Homo sapiens: one gene and its partners. The protein of the gene in region 3 interacts with the protein of the main gene of each other region in a pairwise test. Each region holds a gene or a part of one and is shown on either strand. Other genes may lie near its edges.

What was found. Proteins that work in one complex are often made in the same cells at the same time.
Region 1: the proteins of CEP57 (region 3) and RASSF10 interact in binary tests that used the Homo sapiens proteins (3 or more experiments, as listed by UniProt).
Region 2: the proteins of CEP57 (region 3) and MAGEA2 interact in binary tests that used the Homo sapiens proteins (3 or more experiments, as listed by UniProt).

Annotation. Positions count from the first base shown.
Region 1 is NC_000011.10:13,004,181-13,012,481, reverse strand, and holds RASSF10 (ras association domain-containing protein 10), read right to left. Parts: upstream 3,167-8,301; 5' UTR 2,906-3,166; coding exon 1,382-2,905; 3' UTR 363-1,381; downstream 1-362.
Region 2 is NC_000023.11:152,750,677-152,758,246, reverse strand, and holds the start of MAGEA2 (melanoma-associated antigen 2), read left to right. Parts: upstream 1-4,404; 5' UTR 4,405-4,459; exon of another isoform or gene 4,460-4,705; intron 4,706-4,855; 5' UTR 4,856-4,934; intron 4,935-5,733; 5' UTR 5,734-5,853; intron 5,854-6,424; exon of another isoform or gene 6,425-6,522; intron 6,523-6,672; 5' UTR 6,673-6,738; intron 6,739-6,818; 5' UTR 6,819-6,883; coding exon 6,884-7,570. UniProt on the Homo sapiens protein: Reduces p53/TP53 transactivation function through recruitment of HDAC3 to p53/TP53 transcription sites. Also represses p73/TP73 activity. Proposed to enhance ubiquitin ligase activity of RING-type zinc finger-containing E3 ubiquitin-protein ligases.
Region 3 is NC_000011.10:95,807,329-95,815,005, reverse strand, and holds part of CEP57 (centrosomal protein of 57 kDa), read right to left. Parts: intron 2,075-7,677; coding exon 1,895-2,074; intron 1,539-1,894; coding exon 1,417-1,538; intron 1-1,416. UniProt on the Homo sapiens protein: Centrosomal protein which may be required for microtubule attachment to centrosomes. May act by forming ring-like structures around microtubules. Mediates nuclear translocation and mitogenic activity of the internalized growth factor FGF2, but that of FGF1.

The DNA.
Region 1 (8,301 bases), about 83 Mb from region 3:
TTCCGCGGGGCCAACAACTAGCTACAACTGATAAGTTTTAATTGAAACAACTGGAACAATTACATGGAGTCCCCACCAGCTCTGTCGCCAGCTACTGAGATGGTGTTGCACTTGCATCTCCTGGCATGTGCATAGGCGTGTGCCAGACAAGAGTAATTCAAGTTCTTAACTCACTTTTTATCTTTTTTTCCATGACTACGTGCCATCGTTAATCACATTGTTCACCCAAGGAGTACTATGAGATTGTTTTATTTTTTTCTTTTCTGTCCTTATCTAGGAAACCCTGATATTTACACTATCTCAATTTAAGTTTGAACAAGTAACTGATTAATCTCTGACAAAACATACTGAAGTTAGACGAGTTTGGGTAAAATCCGTTAAGGTCATGGTTGGTTTTAATCACATAGCTCAATTTAAAAGCTGAACACTAAAACATCTTTGCTTTCAAAGAGTGCTTGTTAGACAGCAAGTTTTGTTTTGCGTAACTTGAATTCTGCTACTTCCTTTTATTTTTTTCTGAAATAACAGTGATTGAGTCAATGAAGTGGCAATACGAATTAAAGGGCAACTCACCTGCCTTTGAAGGGACAGATCCCAAAGGGCCCAGATTAAATTTTAACCACGATTATGTTTGCCAGGATTTTATATCTCAAATGATTATGTTTGGCTTTTGTAATAATAAAAGGTTATTTTGGGAAAAGAATTCCCTTTTAACATCTATTGTGTTTACTAGGAGGAAATACAGGGTTAGACTTCGATACAGTTTAGCCTTTGAAAGAAAATAAAAGACAAATGATTTAGCAGATGGGTAATTCCCAAATCTGCAGAAATGTAAACAGCCAGGATTTTGGTGCCTATGGGTTTTATCAAAGAGGTAAGAAAGGCAGAGACCGACACCAGTGCGTCCTCTTTGGCTAGTTTTAACACGTTTACAGTCACAATTAACATTCAAGGAATTTCCTTTTCATCCAAGTGTTTCTTTTAAAGCACTTCATACCACAAACTAAAGTTCTAGCTGCCATCAGTCCTTCCCATACAGAAGAGTAGCGAAATCTCCATTATACTTCCTTACTTTGAAAATGGGCTCGGACCACGTCAATTTCCTTGGGTTGTTTGTTTTCCAGTATAGGGGGTTCTTGCCTCCTCCCTCCTTCCCTCTCTTTAATGAGCTTGTATTGAGGATCCTACTTCTTCTACCCTCACCCTGCTCTGCACTCACCCCGGAGCCAGATGAGCGCGAGGCTGCGCAGAGCGCTGCTGCCCAGCCGGAGCTCTGGGCTCGCAACAGCCTGGTTTCAAGTCCGCGAGCCGGCTGGCCCACTGCATTCTGCAAGAAAAAAGAATCCCCCTGTTCCCGCCCCCCGCCCCCCGCCCCCCACCCCTACACAAGGGATTCGCACATGGGCAAGGAGTCCGAGTCTTGGCTATGCATAGAGCTCAGTCCCGTATCCGAGTCTTCGTCGTTGCCAGGACCGCTCTTGGCCAGTCCACGGGCCTGGTCCACCCACATGTCGGCGCAGGCTTGAGGCCCAGGTTCCCGCGAGGGACTGCCAGAGCCAGGAGCCCCATCCGGTGCCACCGTCAGCTCCAAAGTGTGCAAAGTTTGCAGAAGGCCCTGTAGCTCGCGCTTCTTGCTGTCCCATTGCTGCTGGCTGTAATCCAAGTCCGACTTGACGGCCTCTAGGTCCGTGTTGAGCCGCAGCCCAATGTAAAGGCTGGTACTGAGCTGCGTCCTGACCCGTTCCTGCTCCAGCAGCAGCTCGCCGTCGGGGCCACCGTCGGGCTCCAGGGGCTCCTCCCGCGCCGCCAGCTCCTCCTGGCGCCGTCGCATCCACCTCTGGTTGAGTTCCTCCTGAATCTCGGCTGAAAGGCGCTCCAGCAACTCCTCCTGCTGAACCCGTTGCTCCTGAAGCCGCAGCAAGTCGTCGCAGCGCCGGGCCAGCTCCTCCAGCGCCGCCGCCTGCGCCTCGCCGGCTAGAGGGGGCGCCGCCGCCGCCTCCTCCGCCTCCGCCGCCACCTCTTCTGGCTCCTCTCCCGGTCTGGACCCGTCGAGCTCGATGCCTGCCCCAACCAAGTAAGTGTCCTGCACGTAGTTGACCCCGTGACGCCGCATGCGGTCCAGGTGCACCTTGGCCTCGTAGTGATCGATCTCGCGGTCCAGCTCGTGGAGCCGCTGCACCTGCTGGCGAATTGTGTGGTCCTGGGAAAGCACCAGATGCACCAGCGTCTCCATGCGCTCCACCGACGCGCTCTCGTGGGTCCGCGGCGACGAAGAGCAGGACGAGGCAGTGGACGACGAAGTGGACGAACAGGACGACGGTGTCTGCTGCTGGCGCCGCCGGTTGAGCTTGGCCAGTTTGCGAAAGGCCTTGCGCACCACTCGCCGCTGTTTCTCCTGGGTCATGGCCAGGCTGGGCCGCGCCGGGGCCCCGCGGGCCGGACAGGGGCGCTCTCGGCTCAGCACTACGCGCGCCTCGGCGCTGCGGGGGCCGGCGTTAGGCAGCGATGCCTCGCTGCGCACTAGCACGAAGCGCACATTCTCTTGCTCTTCGCCCCAGGCAGCCCAGAGGCGCAAGATGCGCGTCTTGTTGGGGAGGATGCGCTCAAAGCCGCGCCACTTCTCCACGATGCAATAGCACTGCGGGGGCCCGCACAGCATGCCCTGCGGCAGCGCCTCGTCGTCGTCCTCGTCGTCCTCGTTCGGGGGTTCGGGCAGCTCTCCCGGGCCATGCGGGTCGCCGGCCGACCCCAGCCGCCGGCTCCGCCGCTGTCTCCGTCGCCGCCGGCAGCCGTCCTCCAAAAGCACTCGCACAACGTCGGAGCAAGTGGTGCGGCGGGAGAGGCCGGACACCAGCTTCTCTTCCTGGCAGATCCACACCGATATCTTCTTTTCCGAAGGATCCATGGCGCAACCAGGGCGCAGGTGGCAGGTCCGGCCGGGGTCTGCTGGGGCGGCGAGGACAGCAAGGGCAGCCCAGTAGCTCTGGGATGGGAGAGGAGCCCGTGCCCCCCTCCGGCGGCTGCACTAGCCCTGTTCCCCCGCTGCGCACCGAAGGCAGGCTGGAAAGCGACTGCGGCTGTGGTCGCGGTTGCGGCTGCGCTCTGCCCGGACGACGGGCGCTCCCGGGGCAACGCGCCCAGGACCGGCTCCCGCCGCTCTGGCTCTGCCCAAGGTGCCCGGGACCTCCGGGTTTTGCTCCTCCCCACGTGGCTCCACCCCTTCCCGCCCCCAAGGCCCAGAGCTGTGGCTGGAAGTGCAGGAGGCTCAGGGCCCAGGCCCGCCCCTCGCAGCCTTGCCGCGCCCCGTGCGCCCTGTCCGCCCCTCGCTCGCATTGCAGGCATCCTGAGTCTCGGCCCTTTTCGCCAAATCGCTGCTCTGCCGCGCGCCTACGCAAGGAAAGATTCAAGGGTCCCTCCACTTCAGGGAGTGGAGCCCGCGCCTCGGCACGGATCAGCTGTGCGTCTCCTTTGGCCTACTGGCTCCTCTGCTTGTGTCTATAGCTAGCTGGACGCATCGTGACTTTATCTTCTCATCTTTCCTGGCGCCCCCAGACGCATTTCCTGGTCCCTCGAGGCAGCGGCGTCTGGGGAGTGCACTTTGCACAGACAGGGAAACCGAGGCACTCAGCGGTCTCCAATGGAGACGCTGTAATCGCATTCCACGACCAGCTAGCGCTATAAGCGCTGCCTCTAAAGCGGAAGGCCTCCCAGTCCTTCTCGACAGGAAGCAATATTTGCATATCTAAGGAGAACAAGATTCGGCAATGTGCTCCGGGAGCAAGTGCAGGCATGGAACGGTATGGGCTGGAGGGGGACAGACCTTCAGAGGCGGCTGCCCGTTCCCTGTAGTGTCACGTAAGTGGGTCTCCACGTCACCTTCACCTCAGCTTCCCACAGCCTTTTTGGGAGAGGGGCTCCTCATTCTAGTGGGAGTTCAGGGCCCAGACCCAAGTCACAAGCTATTTTTATGCTTTCCACCTCCATAAGGGGAAACTGTGAAGGCTTCTGGCATTTTCTAATATTCAGATGTGGTCCAGAAGAGATAACAGCCAAGCTTTACAGTGCAAGAAACCCAAGGCCACAATGCAAATGAACTTGTTTCATCCTTAACTGCTGATGAGGATGGTCCACTGAGTGCAAGGTTTGCCCTGAACTTGTCCTTGTGAGCACAGGTGTAATAATAAGCTCACTCCCTTTCTTCAAGACCTTAGATGGCTCCCCATTGCCTCTTGGCTAAAGCACTTTTGTTCATTCAATGATTCACTCAGCAAATATTTATTGAGTACCTCTCTGCTCCAGGTCCTACGCTAGGGATTTGACAATGAACTAATCGCCAGTTCTGGCTTGCAAAGAGTTCACAGTCTAGTGGGAGGGCACAGCCAAGTAAACATTCCCAACACAATGTCCTGTGTCCTCTGATAAGGGAGAGCATGAGGTTCTGGGGGACCCTGGAGTGGCATCCAACCCATCTTGGAGGGGCAAGGAAGGCTTTCCCTAGAAGAGGTGTGTTAGACAAGACCCAAAGGACCATTAGAGTCTGCCAAAAGGAAAGCAGATGGAGGGGAGGGACAAGCAGCATTCTAGAAGGGATTGTAGTGCAGTCAGGAATCAAGAGCATGTTAGTTATGGGGGCTGTCAGGAATTTGAGAGGAGTGCCTAAAACTGAAGTTGGATAATTGAACAGGAATGGGATCAGGAAGGGCCTTTAATTCCATGCTTATGTATTTGGATTTATCTTAAAGACAATGAGAACCCATAGAGTGCAAATCTGGAGTCAGAACAGCCAAGTAAAAATTTCAGCACCACGTACTAGCTCTATAACCTTAGGAAAAGTATTAATCTCTCTGAGCTTCAGTTTCCTGGTCTGTGAAATGGTGATAATAAAAATACCTCCCTAATGGAACTGGTGTAGCGATTAACTGCCTGGGCCTGGTAAATCCCCAGTAGTTTTATTGGGGGGTTGGAAAGGTCGGAGGTATATTAGTTTTCTATTGTTATGTAACAAATTATCACAAACTTAGTGACTTAAAACAACACCCATCTATTACTTCACTGTTCTGTAGATCACAAGTCCAACTTGGCATGGCTGCTGCATACTTTGCTCAGGATGTCCGAGGCAAAAGGCAAGGTATAGGCTGGTTCAAGTTCCTGTCTGAAGGCTCTGGGGGAATACCCAATTCCAAATCCATTCAGGTTGTTTGCATGATCTGGTTCCTCTCAGTTGTAGGTCTGAGGTCCCCATTCTTTTGTTGGCTGTCCTCCAGGGTCACTCTCAGCTCCTACAGAACTCTCTCAGATCCTTTCTGTAGGATATCCACCCCCCTCCCTGCAACTTTAAAGTCAGCAACCACATGTCAAATCCATCCAGTCCTCCTTTGCTTCTAATCAATCTACCATCCTCTTCTGCCACTAGCTAGAGAAAACTCTGCTTTTAAAGTGCTTGATTAGTCAAACCTACCTGGATAATTTCTCTGTCTTAAGGTTGACTGATTAGTAACCTTAACTATATCTGAAAAACCCCTTTTGCTGTGTACTGTAATATAATCACCAAAGTAGCCCCCAGGAAGATGGAGATTATGGGGCTGTCTTAGAATTCTGCCTACCATAGGGCATAACATGAACAGATTTTGATTTTTTAAAGATCCCTCTGTTTGCATTGAGGACAATGGGTGGGGGTGGGGGATGACAGGCAAGAAAGCCTTTTAGAAGACTATCTCGTTCATTCAAGGAAGAGATGATGACCTATACTGAGAATAGTGGCGGTGAGAAGACTGGACACAATTGAGAGCTATCAAGGAGGCAGGAGAGGCAGGACTTGGTGATAGATTGACGAGAGATTTCCTTCTCCCTAGAATGGTGTCAAAGGTCTCTTGCAATCTGGACCAGCCCACTTCTCCAGCTTCTCACTTACATGTGGGCTATCCCTTCTTCCTTTCCTCTCACACAGGATTGCTAGAGCTTTGTAGTCAGCTGCCATCCCTGCTGGATTCTAAGCTCCACAAGGGTAGGGATCATGTCTGTTTTGCTCACTTTTGAATCCTTTACATTTAGTGCAATCCCTGACACATTCTAGGTTTACTCAGTATCTGTTGAATAAATTAATGAATCCATGAAGGAATCCTACATTTTAGCAATCCAATACCTCATCCATCCAGAAGAACTCCTGCATCTTGATGTATCCACACTTTTGTACATGCTTTTCCCACTAATTGAGATTCCTCTTAAACAACTGGAGAACTTCTACTCACTCTTCAGAAGCTCAGGTAAATGTCACCTGCTCTGGGAGTCCTTTCTTTCCTCCTCCAGAAAGAACTGGTTCCCCGCTCTTCTTCTGCGTCTATTAATGTGGAGGTTACATTGTGCTGTGATGCGTTTTTTATGTCTGTTTACTCCCACAAGAATAGAGCTTTTCAAAAGAGAAGATTGTCTCTGTCCTATTTGCAGTTTAGTCCTCAGTGCCTAGGGTGCCTGGCACATGGCAGGTTCTCCATCTTCCCGTATGTTTTAAGGAACACTCAGATGAATAATGTCTAAGATATTGTGCTACCCTCAAGATAACTTATTTCTAGAAGCAGACAAATACATGGAATCCCTGTTGTAGTAATGATATATATGAAATTCCTGCTGGACTAATTAAAGGGTAGAATGATTGTATGGGTGCTAGGAAGGATGCAGAAGGCAGGCTTCAATAATTGGGGAGGAGGGGTTGAGGGCATTCTTGGTGGGAGAAAATACTTGAGTTAAAATGCTGAAATGAGTATGCATGTGGTCATGTACTGGTGTTTCAGAGTGTGTGTTTTGGAGTCACCCTGCCTCATTTCAAATACCAGCTATAAGCTTTCCAACCCTCAATCTTCTTACGAGGAAAAAAGTATAATATTGGAACCTGCTTTATAGAGTTGTCATTACATGAAATGAAATAATGCACAATATATAAAAGATCTAGTGCAGTGACTGGCACATAAAACATGCTCAATAAAACACAGCTAGTGTTGTCAAGAAATTGTATTAAGTACCTACTGCATGCTATGTCCTGGGCTATGTGTTGAGGATCCATGAATGAACTGGACAGACATGGTCCCTGACCTTAGAGATGTCACAGCCAGGATTAGTGTGGTTTAGCAGTGGATTTCTTAAGTTAGGCTAGGCTGTAGTAACAAACAGGGCCAAACTTGTATAATGGCTCAAACATCACAAAGATTTATTTTTCACTCAGATAATAGTCAAAAGAAGATGTCCTGGTTGGGAGGTGGCCTTATTCCTGGTTCCTTCCATCTCGTGACTCCAAAATCCTCTAGACTTCGTCATCATGTATATAAGCCAGAGGAAGAGGAGAGAGTATGGAGGGGCACACCCTCTTCTTTAAGGCATTGGCTGAAAATTGAGCTCATATCCCGTTGGCTAGAACCCAGTCACGGCCACTAGTAATGGCAAGGAGGCTAGGAACTGCAATGAGTATCTCAGAAGAGGAAATGGGTTTTCATGAACAGCTAGCTGCCTGCCATAAAAATATTTATTTGAAAAATGAGACAAGAGGCATAGAAAGAAGTTCCAAAAGTGTAGGAATTGCAAACTGGTGGTCCACCAGCCAAATCTTGCTGCCTTAGACAGAATATACTCTCTGTTTAGCCACAAAAACAACACTCTATTTCACATATGACCCAATTCACATACATTCATAACTCACCTGAGCCCTGTAATCATTTGAGTTGTGACTCTTGCTTCCATACATCCTCCTAGGGTTATCTCATTCACTCCCAGGGATTTTATACAATTGATATGCCATGGCTTCCACATCTATTCCAGAATTATCCAAATATGCATATCCAGCAGCTTGCTGGGTAGCTCCACTTGAATATCTGCCAAACATCCAAACCTTTGTCAAACAGATGAAGTTGAACCCATTATTTCTCCGAAAGCCTGTTCTGCCTCTTGTAATATCTATTTCAGAAAATGGTCCCATCATTCACCAAGCAAGACCTGAAACTTGAGGATCACCGTTTTTCATCACCATCTACTTCCTTTCCCCACAGGATGTTGAAGTTCTGTGAGGGCAGAGGGTTTTGCATGCTTTTTTTCCTACTTAACCTCCAGCACCTGAGACATCAACTCTCACACAGTAGACAATAAGTATTTGTAGAGTGAATAAATGAATGAATGAATGAATGCATTGCCTTAGCTTAGGCCCTCATTTATTTTTAACCTGGACCTTGCACTTTCCTTCAAACCAATTTCCTTGCCTCAAATCCTGCCTCTCTCCCATACTCTCTACTGCATATGTTTGATGAGTCCATTATCTTC
Region 2 (7,570 bases), on a different chromosome or scaffold from region 3:
TAAAAATCTTATGCTCTTCAAAGGACAATGTTAAGAGAATGAAAACAGAAGCCACAGACTAGCAGAAAACATCTGCGGTACACATATGTGATAAAGAACTTGTCTCTACAATATATGCGAATTCTTAAAGCTCAATGATAGAAAAAATGAAAATAGTCAAAGATCTGAACACACACTACACAAAAGAAGATATACACATGGCAAATAAGCATAATAAAAGTACTGAGCACCCTTTGGCATTAGATAATTGTGTACTAAAATGGGATACCACTGCACACCTATCAGAATGTCCAAAATCCATAGAAAACCAAAACAAAGAATACAAGACCAAGAACAATTGCCAGCGAAGATGTGGAGCAACGGAAACTCTCCTTCATTGCTGGTAGAAATGCAAAATGGCACAGCCACTTTGGAAGGCAGTTTGGCGTTTTCTTAAAAAAATGAAAATAGACTTAGCACAAGATTCAGCAGCCATACTCAATCAATTTACCCAATTGATTTGAAAACTTATGTCTACATAAAAATTTGTATATGAATGTATACAATAGCTTATTTCATAATCACCAAAAATAGAAGCATCCAAAATGTATTTCATTTGGTGAATGGATATATATATATATACATATATATATATATATATAACCAGACATTGATACTACTCCTCAATGAAAAGGAATAAGTTCCAAGCCACACAAAGTTATACATGACTCTTCAGTTCATTATGCTAAGTGAAAGAAACCAGTCTAAAAAGGCTACATAGTATAAGATTCTATTTATATGACATTCTGGAAAATGCAAAATTATAAAGATGAAAAACCTATCAGTGGTGGCCATGGGGTTTATCCGACAAGCACAAGGGAATTTATCAGGGCAGTGAAACTGGTATGCATAATACTGCAATGGTGGTTCCGTGCTTGCTTTGGTCTGAATATTTGTGTTGCCACAAAATTCATCTGCTGAATTACCAAGGTGATGGTATTAGGCAGAAGGTGGGGTATTTGGAGAATGACTAGATCATGAGAGCAGAGTCCTCATGAATGGGATTAGTGTTTTTATAAAACAGACTCCACGGAGATCCCTTATCCCTTCTTGCATGTGAGGATCTAGGGAAAAGGCAGCTGTCTATGAACTAGGGAGCAGGACTCCACCAGACATGAAATCTGCCAGCACCTTGATCTTGGACTTCCCAACCTCCAGAATGTGAGAAATAAAGTTGCGTTGTCTATAAGCCACCCAGTCTATCACTATTTTTGTTATGGAAGCCCAAACGGACTAAGACAATGGCACGAGGCATTTGTCAAAACCCATAGATCTTTACAGCACAAAGAGTGAAGCTTAATGTATGTAAAGTTTAAAAGTAACTTAAGAGGTTGGAGAATCACGGGACGGCAGGTAGAATGTTCCACACACACACACACACACACACACACCTAGTTGTATAATAGATATATGAAACCACCACAATGAAGCAAGTGGGGGGAAAAGTTAACACATTTTGTACTCCATCAAAGAAATATATATTTTATAAAGTTTAAGTTGGCCAGATAAGTGTGTAACATAGTTGAACATTTGATAATCATTTATTTAATTTTTTAGATATGAAAACTATCGGCTTTTTGTTTTAAAAAAATCCTTATCTTTTAAAAATGCATATTAAGTTATTTAGAGATGAAATGGTCTAATGCCTTAGATTTACTCCACGTTATTCCAGCAGCTCATATGCAGGTAGGCGAGTGTTTAACTGGAACCAGATTTGCTGTGTATTTAAAGATGTTCATGCTCGGTATCAAGTATCCTGGGTTCATTATATTCGTTCCTGTTATTCTGTATGTGTGAAGGCTTTCCCTAATAAAACTTTTTTATCATAAATATGCCATTAAAAGTGAAATCCTAAATGAAACTGACCACTTTGTAGAAATAAAATAAATCAGTAACCAAACTGATCCAAAGAGGAAAAGAAAACTTTAACTATACAACAGAAACTGTACAATATTCAAAGCTCAAGCCACCCTCAAACATTCCAGGTTAGACAGCTTTGGAGGCCAATTTTACCAAATGATCAGGGAAAACTAACCACCGCCTTATATCAACTCTTCCAGAACATACAAAAGACTGACAATTGTTCAGTTCATTCTCCCAGGCTAGCCCTCCTGGATTTAAAAACCAGATGAGGACCACATACCTCCCCTGATGGAAAAAGAACACATCAAGTAAGCTCTCTTACACAGCAGTAAATATCCTACATAAATTAGTAGTACATTAAACGAATAAACAGGCTCTGCCCAAGGAAATAAAATATGATTTAACATTAGAAAAAACATCTGTTTCATTGTGATTCCTTACATACAAAATGGAAGAGAAAAAAATTTGATCCTGCCAACGGGTACAGAAAAAGCTTTTTAAATAAATTTAATATGAATTCATGGTAAAAAAGAAAATATTTAGGCAACCTATACTGAAAGAGAACTTCCATTTCCTAAAATCAACAGCAAACATACTTAAATGTCAAATGTTCGAAGAATTATCATTCAAGTCAGGAACGAGAAGTAGATGTAGCCTATTATCTCTACATTTGAAATCAGGATTGAGACACAAAGAGCTGTAAGTACCGAAATGAGTGAGTGGTATGAACATTGGAAAAACATGTAGTGTTTAGTGATAATACCATTATCGATCTTGAAAATTCAAAGGAAAAGGTATGCGGAATATTCAAGTGCATCGGCCTTCAGAACGAGGTGTGCAACAGATTACTACAGCAAAATCAAAATCTTCACCTCACGAAAGCAATAACTAACTACAACAATTGATAGACAATATGCCACTTGCAATAGCAACAAAATCCAAGAATTACCTGAATAGAAGCCTAATAAAAATGTATAAGTTGTTTATAGAGGCAACTACCGAAGTATACTGACATATTCAGGAAAAAAGAGCTTGAAATCCATAGAGGAGTATAACATATTCATTCACGGGGAACACAACAGTGTAAAAATGTAAACTCAGCTTAAATTATTTACAATTTAGTGCCTTACCTGTAGCCGCCGACATTACAAGCAAATTTGGGCTGCTGTGCTCTGCTTCCCAAATCAACCCTGTAAATTTATAGAATGGAAACAGAAAGTAAAACACCAGTATCAGCAAGAAAATCTACACAACAAAACAGGGAAAGCCCAGAGTGAGACTGGAGACTGTGTTGAGCTGGTACTTGTGTGTGACACTTGCAGTGTCTGTTGGAGGGGGTTAGCGGCAGAGATGTTGGGGAGGTTTGTAGCCTGCCTAGACGGCAGATGAAAGAATGGGTAGAATAAAAGTTTTGAATTTTCCACTTCACTTCATTGCACAATCTGAGGCAGCCCCTGAAAACACGATGCCAAGAGCCCTAGGTAATAGCAGTGTCCACCAGGAAAATTGGGTTTGTTAAGGCAGCATGGCTCCAGAGTTCTGCTAATAACAACCTGAAACCAACAGAGTGGGAGAGGAATTATGTTTTTTAAAAAAATTCTTTCAACAGAACACAAAGACTGGAATGGAAGTAGACTAGGATATCAGAGTGAATCATGCATACTAAGGGTAGGTGTTAGTTCATAGAAATAAATATATATATTGCTACCTACATATATACTTAGAAGATATGTAAACCGTATTTCTTCAATTCAGAGAATAAATCATTTAGGACCAAAGGTTTGCCAAGTGTAGCTCTGGCTGGGGAGGAGCCCCCGTGGGAAGGTGTGCGTCTTCTCCCAGAGGTCACTATCATCGCGGGAGCTCCTGCCCTGCAGGGAGCACCTGGCCTGGCACCCGCAGCCATTCTCTACAAGGGGTGCAGATGCGCAGATGCGCAGATGCTCAGAGGTGACAGAAACAGAGCATCTCCCACCCATTCCTTCATCAAACAGCCAGGAGTGAGGAAGAGGACCCTCCTGAGTGAGGACTGAGGATCCACCCTCACCCACATAGTGGGACCACAGAATCCAGCTCAGCCCCTCTTGTCAGCCCTGGTACACACTGGCAATGATCTCACCCCGAGCACACCCCTCCCCCCAATGCCACTTCGGGCCGACTCAGAGTCAGAGACTTGGTCTGAGGGGAGCAAACACAATCGGCAGAGGATGGCGGTCCAGGCTCAGTCTGGCATCCAAGTCAGGACCTTGAGGGATGACCAAAGGCCCCTCCCACCCCCAACTCCCCCGACCCCACCAGGATCTACAGCCTCAGGATCCCCGTCCCAATCCCTACCCCTACACCAACACCATCTTCATGCTTACCCCCACCCCCCCATCCAGATCCCCATCCGGGCAGAATCCGGTTCCACCCTTGCCGTGAACCCAGGGAAGTCACGGGCCCGGATGTGACGCCACTGACTTGCGCATTGGAGGTCAGAGGACAGCGAGATTCTCGCCCTGAGCAACGGCCTGACGTCGGCGGAGGGAAGCAGGCGCAGGCTCCGTGAGGAGGCAAGGTAAGACGCCGAGGGAGGACTGAGGCGGGCCTCACCCCAGACAGAGGGCCCCCAATAATCCAGCGCTGCCTCTGCTGCCGGGCCTGGACCACCCTGCAGGGGAAGACTTCTCAGGCTGAGTCGCCACCACCTCACCCCGCCACCCCCCGCCGCTTTAACCGCAGGGAACTCTGGCGTAAGAGCTTTGTGTGACCAGGGCAGGGCTGGTTAGAAGTGCTCAGGGCCCAGACTCAGCCAGGAATCAAGGTCAGGACCCCAAGAGGGGACTGAGGGCAACCCACCCCCTACCCTCACTACCAATCCCATCCCCCAACACCAACCCCACCCCCATCCCTCAAACACCAACCCCACCCCCAAACCCCATTCCCATCTCCTCCCCCACCACCATCCTGGCAGAATCCGGGCTTTGCCCCTGCAATCAACCCACGGAAGCTCCGGGAATGGCGGCCAAGCACGCGGATCCTGACGTTCACATGTACGGCTAAGGGAGGGAAGGGGTTGGGTCTCGTGAGTATGGCCTTTGGGATGCAGAGGAAGGGCCCAGGCCCTCCTGGAAGACAGTGGAGTCCTTAGGGGACCCAGCATGCCAGGACAGGGGGCCCACTGTACCCCTGTCTCAAACTGAGCCACCTTTTCATTCAGCCGCGGGAATCCTAGGGATGCAGACCCACTTCAGCAGGGGGTTGGGGCCCAGCCCTGCGAGGAGTCAAGGGGAGGAAGAAGAGGGAGGACTGAGGGGACCTTGGAGTCCAGATCAGTGGCAACCTTGGGCTGGGGGATCCTGGGCACAGTGGCCGAATGTGCCCCGTGCTCATTGCACCTTCAGGGTGACAGAGAGTTGAGGGCTGTGGTCTGAGGGCTGGGACTTCAGGTCAGCAGAGGGAGGAATCCCAGGATCTGCCGGACCCAAGGTGTGCCCCCTTCATGAGGACTGGGGATACCCCCGGCCCAGAAAGAAGGGATGCCACAGAGTCTGGCCGTCCCTTGTTCTTAGCTCTGGGGGAACCTGATCAGGGATGGCCCTAAGTGACAATCTCATTTGTACCACAGGCAGGAGGTTGGGGAACCCTCAGGGAGATAAGGTGTTGGTGTAAAGAGGAGCTGTCTGCTCATTTCAGGGGGTTGGGGGTTGAGAAAGGGCAGTCCCTGGCAGGAGTAAAGATGAGTAACCCACAGGAGGCCATCATAACGTTCACCCTAGAACCAAAGGGGTCAGCCCTGGACAACGCACGTGGGGGTAACAGGATGTGGCCCCTCCTCACTTCTGTTTCCAGATCTCAGGGAGTTGATGACCTTGTTTTCAGAAGGTGACTCAGGTCAACACAGGGGCCCCCATCTGGTCGACAGATGCAGTGGTTCTAGGATCTGCCAAGCATCCAGGTGGAGAGCCTGAGGTAGGATTGAGGGTACTCCTGGGCCAGAATGCAGACAGGGGGCCCCATAGAAATCTGCCCTGCCCCTGCGGTTACTTCAGAGACCCTGGGCAGGGCTGTCAGCTGAAGTCCCTCCATTATCCTGGGATCTTTGATGTCAGGGAAGGGGAGGCCTTGGTCTGAAGGGGCTGGAGTCAGGTCAGTAGAGGGAGGGTCTCAGGCCCTGCCAGGAGTGGACGTGAGGACCAAGCGGACTCGTCACCCAGGACACCTGGACTCCAATGAATTTGGACATCTCTCGTTGTCCTTCGCGGGAGGACCTGGTCACGTATGGCCAGATGTGGGTCCCCTCATCTCCTTCTGTACCATATCAGGGATGTGAGTTCTTGACATGAGAGATTCTCAAGCCAGCAAAAGGGTGGGATTAGGCCCTACAAGGAGAAAGGTGAGGGCCCTGAGTGAGCACAGAGGGGACCCTCCACCCAAGTAGAGTGGGGACCTCACGGAGTCTGGCCAACCCTGCTGAGACTTCTGGGAATCCGTGGCTGTGCTTGCAGTCTGCACACTGAAGGCCCGTGCATTCCTCTCCCAGGAATCAGGAGCTCCAGGAACCAGGCAGTGAGGCCTTGGTCTGAGTCAGTGTCCTCAGGTCACAGAGCAGAGGGGACGCAGACAGTGCCAACACTGAAGGTTTGCCTGGAATGCACACCAAGGGCCCCACCCGCCCAGAACAAATGGGACTCCAGAGGGCCTGGCCTCACCCTCCCTATTCTCAGTCCTGCAGCCTGAGCATGTGCTGGCCGGCTGTACCCTGAGGTGCCCTCCCACTTCCTCCTTCAGGTTCTGAGGGGGACAGGCTGACAAGTAGGACCCGAGGCACTGGAGGAGCATTGAAGGAGAAGATCTGTAAGTAAGCCTTTGTCAGAGCCTCCAAGGTTCAGTTCAGTTCTCACCTAAGGCCTCACACACGCTCCTTCTCTCCCCAGGCCTGTGGGTCTTCATTGCCCAGCTCCTGCCCGCACTCCTGCCTGCTGCCCTGACCAGAGTCATCATGCCTCTTGAGCAGAGGAGTCAGCACTGCAAGCCTGAAGAAGGCCTTGAGGCCCGAGGAGAGGCCCTGGGCCTGGTGGGTGCGCAGGCTCCTGCTACTGAGGAGCAGCAGACCGCTTCTTCCTCTTCTACTCTAGTGGAAGTTACCCTGGGGGAGGTGCCTGCTGCCGACTCACCGAGTCCTCCCCACAGTCCTCAGGGAGCCTCCAGCTTCTCGACTACCATCAACTACACTCTTTGGAGACAATCCGATGAGGGCTCCAGCAACCAAGAAGAGGAGGGGCCAAGAATGTTTCCCGACCTGGAGTCCGAGTTCCAAGCAGCAATCAGTAGGAAGATGGTTGAGTTGGTTCATTTTCTGCTCCTCAAGTATCGAGCCAGGGAGCCGGTCACAAAGGCAGAAATGCTGGAGAGTGTCCTCAGAAATTGCCAGGACTTCTTTCCCGTGATCTTCAGCAAAGCCTCCGAGTACTTGCAGCTGGTCTTTGGCATCGAGGTGGTGGAAGTGGTCCCCATCAGCCACTTGTACATCCTTGTCACCTGCCTGGGCCTCTCCTACGATGGCCTGCTGGGCGACAATCAGGTCATGCCCAAGACAGGCCTCCTGATAATCGTCCTGGCCATAATCGCAATAGAGGGCGACTGTGCCCCTGAGGAGAAAATCTGGGAGGAGCTGAGTATGTTGGAG
Region 3 (7,677 bases):
ATTTACATAACATTTACATTGCATTAGGTGTTATAAGTAATCTAGAGATAATTTATAGTATATGAGATTGGGTGTAGGTTATACGCAAATACCACACCATTTTATAGGAGACTTGAGCATCCATGGATTTTACTATCCACAGGGGTCTGAGAACCAATTCACTCATGGATACTGAAGGACAACTGCCTAGTATTTTTTTTTTCCATTGCAGGGCATCTAGCATAATGTTAAGCATATAAACAATCCGATTTTATAATAGAGTTAAGATGTCTACAAAACTAATGAATGCAAACTCTAGATTCATAACAGAAAAAGGAGTAAGTTTTAAAAAAATATACACAAGGCTGGCCGGGCGTGGTGGCTCATGCCTGTAATTCCAGCACTCTGGGAGGCCAAGGCAGGCGGATCACATGAGGTTGGCAGTTCAAGACCAGCCTGACCAACATGGTGAAACCCTGTCTCTACTAAAAATACAAAATTAGCCGGGTGTGGTGGCACATGCCTGTAATCCCAGCTACTTGGGAGGCTGAGGCAGGAGAATCACTTGAACCCGGGAGGTGGAGGTTGCGGTGAGCTGAGATCACGCCGTTGCTCTCCAGCCTGGGCAATAAAAGGGAAACTCCGTCTCAAAAAAAAAAAAAAAAAAAATACACACAAGGCCAGGGACAGTGGCTCATGCCCGTAATCCCAGAACTTTGGGAGGCCGAGGCGGCCTGATCACTTGAGGCCAGGAGTTTGAGACCAGCCTGGCCACATCTATACTAAAAATACACACACACACAAAAGTTAGCTGGGCATCGTGGCATGCGCCTGTAATCCCAGCTACTCGGGAGGATGAGGCATGAGAATCACCTGAGCCTAGGAGGTAGAGGTTGCAGTGAACCGAGATCATGCCACTACACTCCAGCCTGGGTGACAGAGTGAGACAGAGTGAGATCCAATCAATTGATCAATCAATATATTTGAGACTGATGTTGAGATATCTTCTCACAAATGTACAGGTCACCTAAATACGAAGATCTCTGGTGTAAGAAAGCACAAAAATGCTATGCTAAGTAACAATTCTGAAGAGTTTTACAAAGTCATCTACTATCTCACTGGAGTCATTAAACAAATTTCAGAGATACAGAGGTATATGGTTATTTACACTTTTTATAATGTAGACTCAAAGAAGCTAACATAACTTTCAAACATCTCACAACTGTATTTTTACCATTTAAGTAAAACTCTACGAAACACAACAATAACAACAAGAAAAAGCCAATCACATATTTAGATTTCATAACTGATGCCAAGAAATTTCAGTCCTGGGCTGTAACAGCACCATTAATCCTCACCGAAAGAAAAAAAGTCTTTATTCAATTAGTTTTCCCCATAACTGTTCTTGAGTATCAATCTGTGAGGTGCTTTACTTACTTGTTTCTCTAAGACAGATGTCCTCTCCATTTCGGCATGCTTTATCATATTTCGCATGTATTCCAATTGTTTTTCTAATAGATTGCATTTATTTTCTGCAGCTAACAACTGAGATGTCAGTTCTAAAAAGAATACATAAGAAAAGCAGAAATCAACTCACCCATAAAATAGTTTTAACAAGCTGTTAACAGGAATTGGATCTATTGTGTATACAATAAAAACACCTTCCACAGACCTGGACGCCTTTTCAGATTACCTAAATCATTCTTTCTACGTGCTAGTCAAACTGGCCTTGCATTCAGTAAATAAATGCCATGTATGACAACAGCATTTGCTCCTCAAAATGCACCAGAATACAATGCAGTTTTGTAGTACTTGAAGATACCGCTACAAAACACTAATGTACTATTTCTTTTAGAATACTTAATACTGCACAACACTTATTTTGATAGAATTTTAATTTTCTTCATCAACAAACCTTGATTGTGCTTTGATTCCTCATTCTTTGAATTCTCCCTTTCTTGTATCTGTTCATCCAGTACTTTCTTATATTCAATTGTTTCTCTAGACAAGGTTTTCACACTTTCTTCTGCCTGAATCCTCTCAAGTTCCAAGCGTCGAATCTTATCTTGAAGATTCTTAAGAGCAGAAAATATGGCTGCCAAATACAAACACAAACGTGGATGCTGTAACAGCATATGCGGAGAAAGTATATTAAGAAAGAATAAACTCATCTAAATAAAAAATAAAATTGATGGATGAGTCCAGTGGAGGATCACTCTTTGGGAACAATAAAATGTTAATTATCTCATATTTGTTTTTTAAAAAATCAATTTAAAGACATTGAGTGGGCCGGGTGCGGTGGCTCACACCTGTAATCCCAGCACTTTGGGAGGCTGAGGTGGGTGGATCACCTGAGGTTAGGAGTTCGAGACCAGCCTAACACAGTGAAACCCTGTCACTACTAAAAATAAAAAAAATTAGGCAGGCATAGTGGCGGGCGCCTGTAATCCCAGCTACTCGGGAGGCTGAGGCAGGAGAATCGCTTGAACCCGGGTGGGGTGGGGAGTGTGGAGGGGTGGAGGTTGCAGTGAGCTGAGATCGCACCATTGCACTCCAGCCTGGGCGACAGTGAGATTCTGTCTCACAAAAAATAATAATAAATTAAAAAAAAGACATTGAGTGTTTGAAATGTGCTCAAGTAAAAACCCCATTACTATGGTAAAAAAATTTCAAAGACTTTTATAAAGTGGTAAAAAATTTAGCCAATCATACAAAGTTCACATAACAGTCCTAAAGTACATTACTGTCTTATTAATATATTACTTATTAATTAAAATTAGTAAATGTATTAGTAACTATTACTTATTAATACATTTTATTAATAGGAGCACATGTAGAAACCAACTATAGAGTTACAGTCAAGCACACAAAAATAATACTTTTAAAATCCGCATTTTAAGTACTTTCTAAAGTCCGCTTCAAGTTTGATTATAAAATTATGTTGACTGCAGTAAATGTAGAAGACTGAGAAAAAACACACTGAAAAATAACCAATAATCCTATTACCCAAAGATAATGACTGTCATTTGGTTATTTAAATTTTTTCCTATATGTGTAAAATAAATTGAGACAAAACAAATATGTAGGTTTTTTCACTTTAGCATTATTAAATAGTGAGAATTCCCTCAGGCAATCAGTCTTAAAAGATTTTCTAATGATCAATAATTAAAAACTAAAAAGTTACTGGGTCAAAGAAGAATCATAGCCATTCTAATGAGAAAAATATGCTACTCCTAGTTATTTTCCATTTCCATCAAAGTATAAATCTTTTCATATATGTTATTGGCTAATTTTCTCCCTTTCATGAATTTCCTTTGCCCATTTTTCTATGGGAAAAAGTTTTCTTCATTTTATTATCTGCCTTTAATTCTAGTTTTGATGTACAGATGTTTTGATTTTTCACAGAGGTATACCTAATTCTTTCCCATCACGTTTTTTTTTTTTTTAATTATACTTTAAGCTCTAGGGTACATGTGCTCAACGTGCAGGTTTGTTACATATGTATACATGTGCCATGTTGCTGTGCTGCACCCATTAACTCATCATTTACATTAGGTATATCTTCTAATGCTATCCCTCCCCCCTCCCCCCAACCCACGACAGGCCCCGGTGTGTGATGTTCCCCACCCTGTGTCCAAGTGTTCTCATTGTTCAATTCCCACCTATGAGTGAGAACATGTGGTGTCTGGTTTTCTGTCCTTGCAATAGTTTGTTCAGAATGATGGTTTCCAGCTTCATCCATGTCCCTACAAAGGACATGAACTCAATCTTTTTTACAGCTGCATAGTATTCCATGGTGTATATGTGCCACATTTTCTTAATCCAGTCTTGATGGACATTTAGGCTGGTTCCAAGTCTTTGCTATTGTGAACCGTGCCGCAATAAACATACATGTGTATGTGTCTTTATAGCAGCATGATTTATAATCCTTTGGGTATATGCCCAGTAATGGGATGGCTGGGTCAAATGGTATTTCTAGTTCTAGATACTTGAGGAATCGCCACAGTCTTCCACAATGGTTGAACTAGTTTACGATCCCACCAACAGTGTAAAAGTATTCCTATTTCTCCACATCCTCTCAAGCATCTGTTGTTTCCTGACTTTTTAATGATCACTTTAATGGCTCAGGATTGTCTTGGTAATGTGGGCTGTTTTTTTTGGTGCTGTATGAACTTTAAAGTAGTTTTTTCCAATTCTGTGACGAAAGTCAGTGGTAGCTTGATGGGGATGGCATTGAATCTATAAATTACCTTGGGCAGTATGGCTATTTCCACGATATTGATTCTTCCTATCCATGAGTATGGAATGTTCTTCCATTTGTTTGTATCCTCTTTTATTTCATTGAGCAGTGGTTTGTAGTTCTCCTTGAAGGGGTCCTTCACATCCCTTGTAAGTTGGATTCCTAGGGATTTTATTGTCTTTGAAGCAATTGTGAATGAGAGTTCACTCATGATTTGGCTGTGTGTCTGTTATTGGTGTATAAGAATGCTTGTGATTTTTGCACATTGATTTTGTATCCTGAGACTTTGCTGAAGTTGCTTATCAACTTGAGGAGATTTTGGGCTGAGACGATAGGGTTTTCTAAATATACAACCATGTAATCTGCAAACAGGGACAATTTGACTTCCTCTTTTCCTAACTGAATACCCTTTATTTCTTTCTCCTGCCTGATTGCCCTGGCCAGAAGTTCCAACACTATGTTCAATAGGAATGGTGAGAGACGGCATCCCTGTCTTGTGCCAGTTTTCAAAGGGAATGCTTCCAGTTCTTGCTCATTCAGTATGATATTGGCTGTGGGTTTGTCACAAATCACTCATATTGTTTTGAGATACGTCCCATCAATACCTAGTTTATTGAGAGTTTTTAGCATGAAGGGCTGCTGAATTTTGTTGAAGGCCTTTTCTGCATCTACTGAGATAATCATGTGGTTTCTGTCTTTGGTTCTGTTTATATGATGAATTACGTTTACTGATTTGTGTACGTTGAACCAGCCTTGCATCCCAGAGATGAAGCCAACTTGATCTTGGTGGATAAGCTTTTTGATGTGCTGCTGGATTCGGTTTGCCAGTATTTTATTGAGGATTTTTGCATCAATGATCATCAGGGATATCGGTGTAAAATTCTCTTTTTCTGTTGTGTCTCTGCCAGGCTTTGGTATCAGGATGATGCTGGCTTCATAAAATGAGTTTGGGAGGATTACCTCTTTTTCCATTGATTGGAATTGTTTCAGAAGGAATGGTACCAGCTCCTCTTTGTGCCTCTGGTAGAATTTGGCTGTGAATCCGTCTGGTCCTGGACTTTTTTTGGTTGGCAGGCTATTAATTATTGCCTCAATTTCAGAGCCTGCTATTGGTCTATTCAGGGATTCAACTTCTTCCTGGTTTTGTCTTGGGAGGGTGTATGTGTCCAGTAATTTACCCATTTCTTCTAGATTTTCTAGTTTATTTGCGTAGAGATGTTTATAGTATTCGCTGATGGTAGTCTGTATTTCTGTGGGATTGGTAGTGATATCTCCTTTATCATTTTTTATTGCATCTATTTGATTCTTCTCGCTTTACTTCTTTATTAGTCTTGCTAGTGGTCTATCAATTTTGATCTTTTCAAAAAACCAGCTCCTGGATTCACTGATTTTTTGAAGGGTTTTTTGTGTCTCTATCTCCTTCAGTTCTGCTCTGATCTTAGTTATTTCTTGCCTTCTGCTAGCTTTTGAATGTGTTTGCTCTTGCTTTTCTAGTTCTTTTAATTGTGATGTTAGGGTGTCAATTTTAGATCTTTCCTGCTTTCTCTTGTGGGCATTTAGTGCTATAAATTTCCCTCTACACACTGCTTTGAATGTGTCCCAAAGAATCTGGTATGTTGTGTCTTTGTTCTCGTTGGTTTCAAAGAACATCTTTATTTCTGCCTTCATTTCATTATTCACCCAGTAGTCATTCAGGAGCAGGTTGTTCACTTTCCATGTAGTTGAGTGGTTTTGAGTGAGTTTCTTAATCCTGAGTTCTAGTTTGATTGCACTGTGGTCTGAGAGACAGTCTGTTATAATTTGTTCTTTTACATTTGCTGAGGAGTGCTTTACTTCCAACTATGTGGTCAGTTTTGGAATAAGTGTGATGTGGTGCTGAGAAGAATGTATATTCTATTGATTTGGGGTGGAGAGTTCTGTAGATGTCTATTAGGTTCGCTCGGTGCAGAACCAAGTTCAATTCCTGGATATCCTTGTTAACTTTCTGTCTCGCTGATCTGTCTAATGTTGACAGTGGGGTGTTAAAGTCTCCCATTATTATTGTGTGGGAGTCTGAGTCTCTTTGCAGGTCTCTATGGACTTGCTTTATGAATCTGGGTGCTCCTGTATTGGGCGCATATATATTTAGGTTAGCTCTTCTTGTTGAATTGATCCCTTTACCATTATGTAATGGCCTTCTTTGTCTCTTTTGATCTAGTCCGTTTTATCAGAGACTAGGATTGCAACCCCTGCCTTTTTTTGTTTTCCATTTGCTTGGTAGATCTTCCTCCATCCTTTTATTTTGAGCCTATGTGTGCCCCAGCATGTGAGGTGGGTCTACTGAATACAGCACACTGATGGGTCTTGACTCTTGGTATCCAATTTGCCAGTCTGTGTCTTTTAATTGGAGCATTTAGCCTGTTTACATTTAAGGTTAATATTGTTATGTGTGAATTTGATCCTATCATTATGATGTTAGCTGGTTATTTTGCTCGTTAGTTGATGCAGTTTCTTCCTAGTCTCGATGGTCTTTACAATTTGGCATGTTTTTGCAGTGGCTGGTACCGGTTGTTCCTTTCCATGTTTAGTTGTTCCTTCAGGAGATCTTGTAAGGCAGGCCTGGTGGTAACAAAATCTCTCAGCATTTGCTTGTCTGTAAAGGATTTTATTTCTCCTTCACTTACAAAGCTTAGTTTGGCTGGATATGAAATTCTGGGTTGAAAATTCTTTTCTTTAAGAATGTTGAATATTGGCCCCCACTCTCTTCTGGCTTGTAGTTTCTGCCGAGAGATCTGCTGTTAGTCTGATGGGCTTCCCTTTGCAGGTAACCTGACCTTTCTCTCTGGCTGCCCTTAATATTTTTTCCTTCATTTTAACTTTGGTGAATCTGACAATTATGTGTCTTGGAGTTGCTCTCCTTGAGGAGTATCTTTGTGGCATTATCTGTATTTCCTGAATTTGAATGTTGGCCTGCCTTCCTAGATTGGGGAAGTTGTCCTGGATAATATCCTGAAGAGTGTTTTCCAACTTGGTTCCATTCTCCCCGTCACTTTCAGGTACACCAATCAGAGGCAGACTTGGTCTTTTCTCATAGTCCCATATTTCTTGGAGGCTTTGTTCATTTCTTTTTACTCTTTTTTCTCTAAACTTCTCTTCTCGCTTCATTTCATTCATTTGATCTTCAATCACAGATACCCTTTCTTCCACTTGATTGAATCGGCTACTGAGTCTTGTGCATGCGTCATGTAGTTCTCATGGCATGGTTTTCAGCTCCATCAGGTCATTTAAGGTCTTCTCTACGCTGTTTATTCTAGTTAGCCATTCGTCTAATCTTTTTTCAAGGTTTTTAGCTTCTTTGCAATGGGTTCAAATATCTTCCTTTAGCTCAGAGAAGTTTGTTATCACCGATCGTTTGAAGCCTTCTTCTCTCAACTCGTCAAAGTCATTCTCCATCAAGCTTTGTTCTGTTGCTGGCAAGG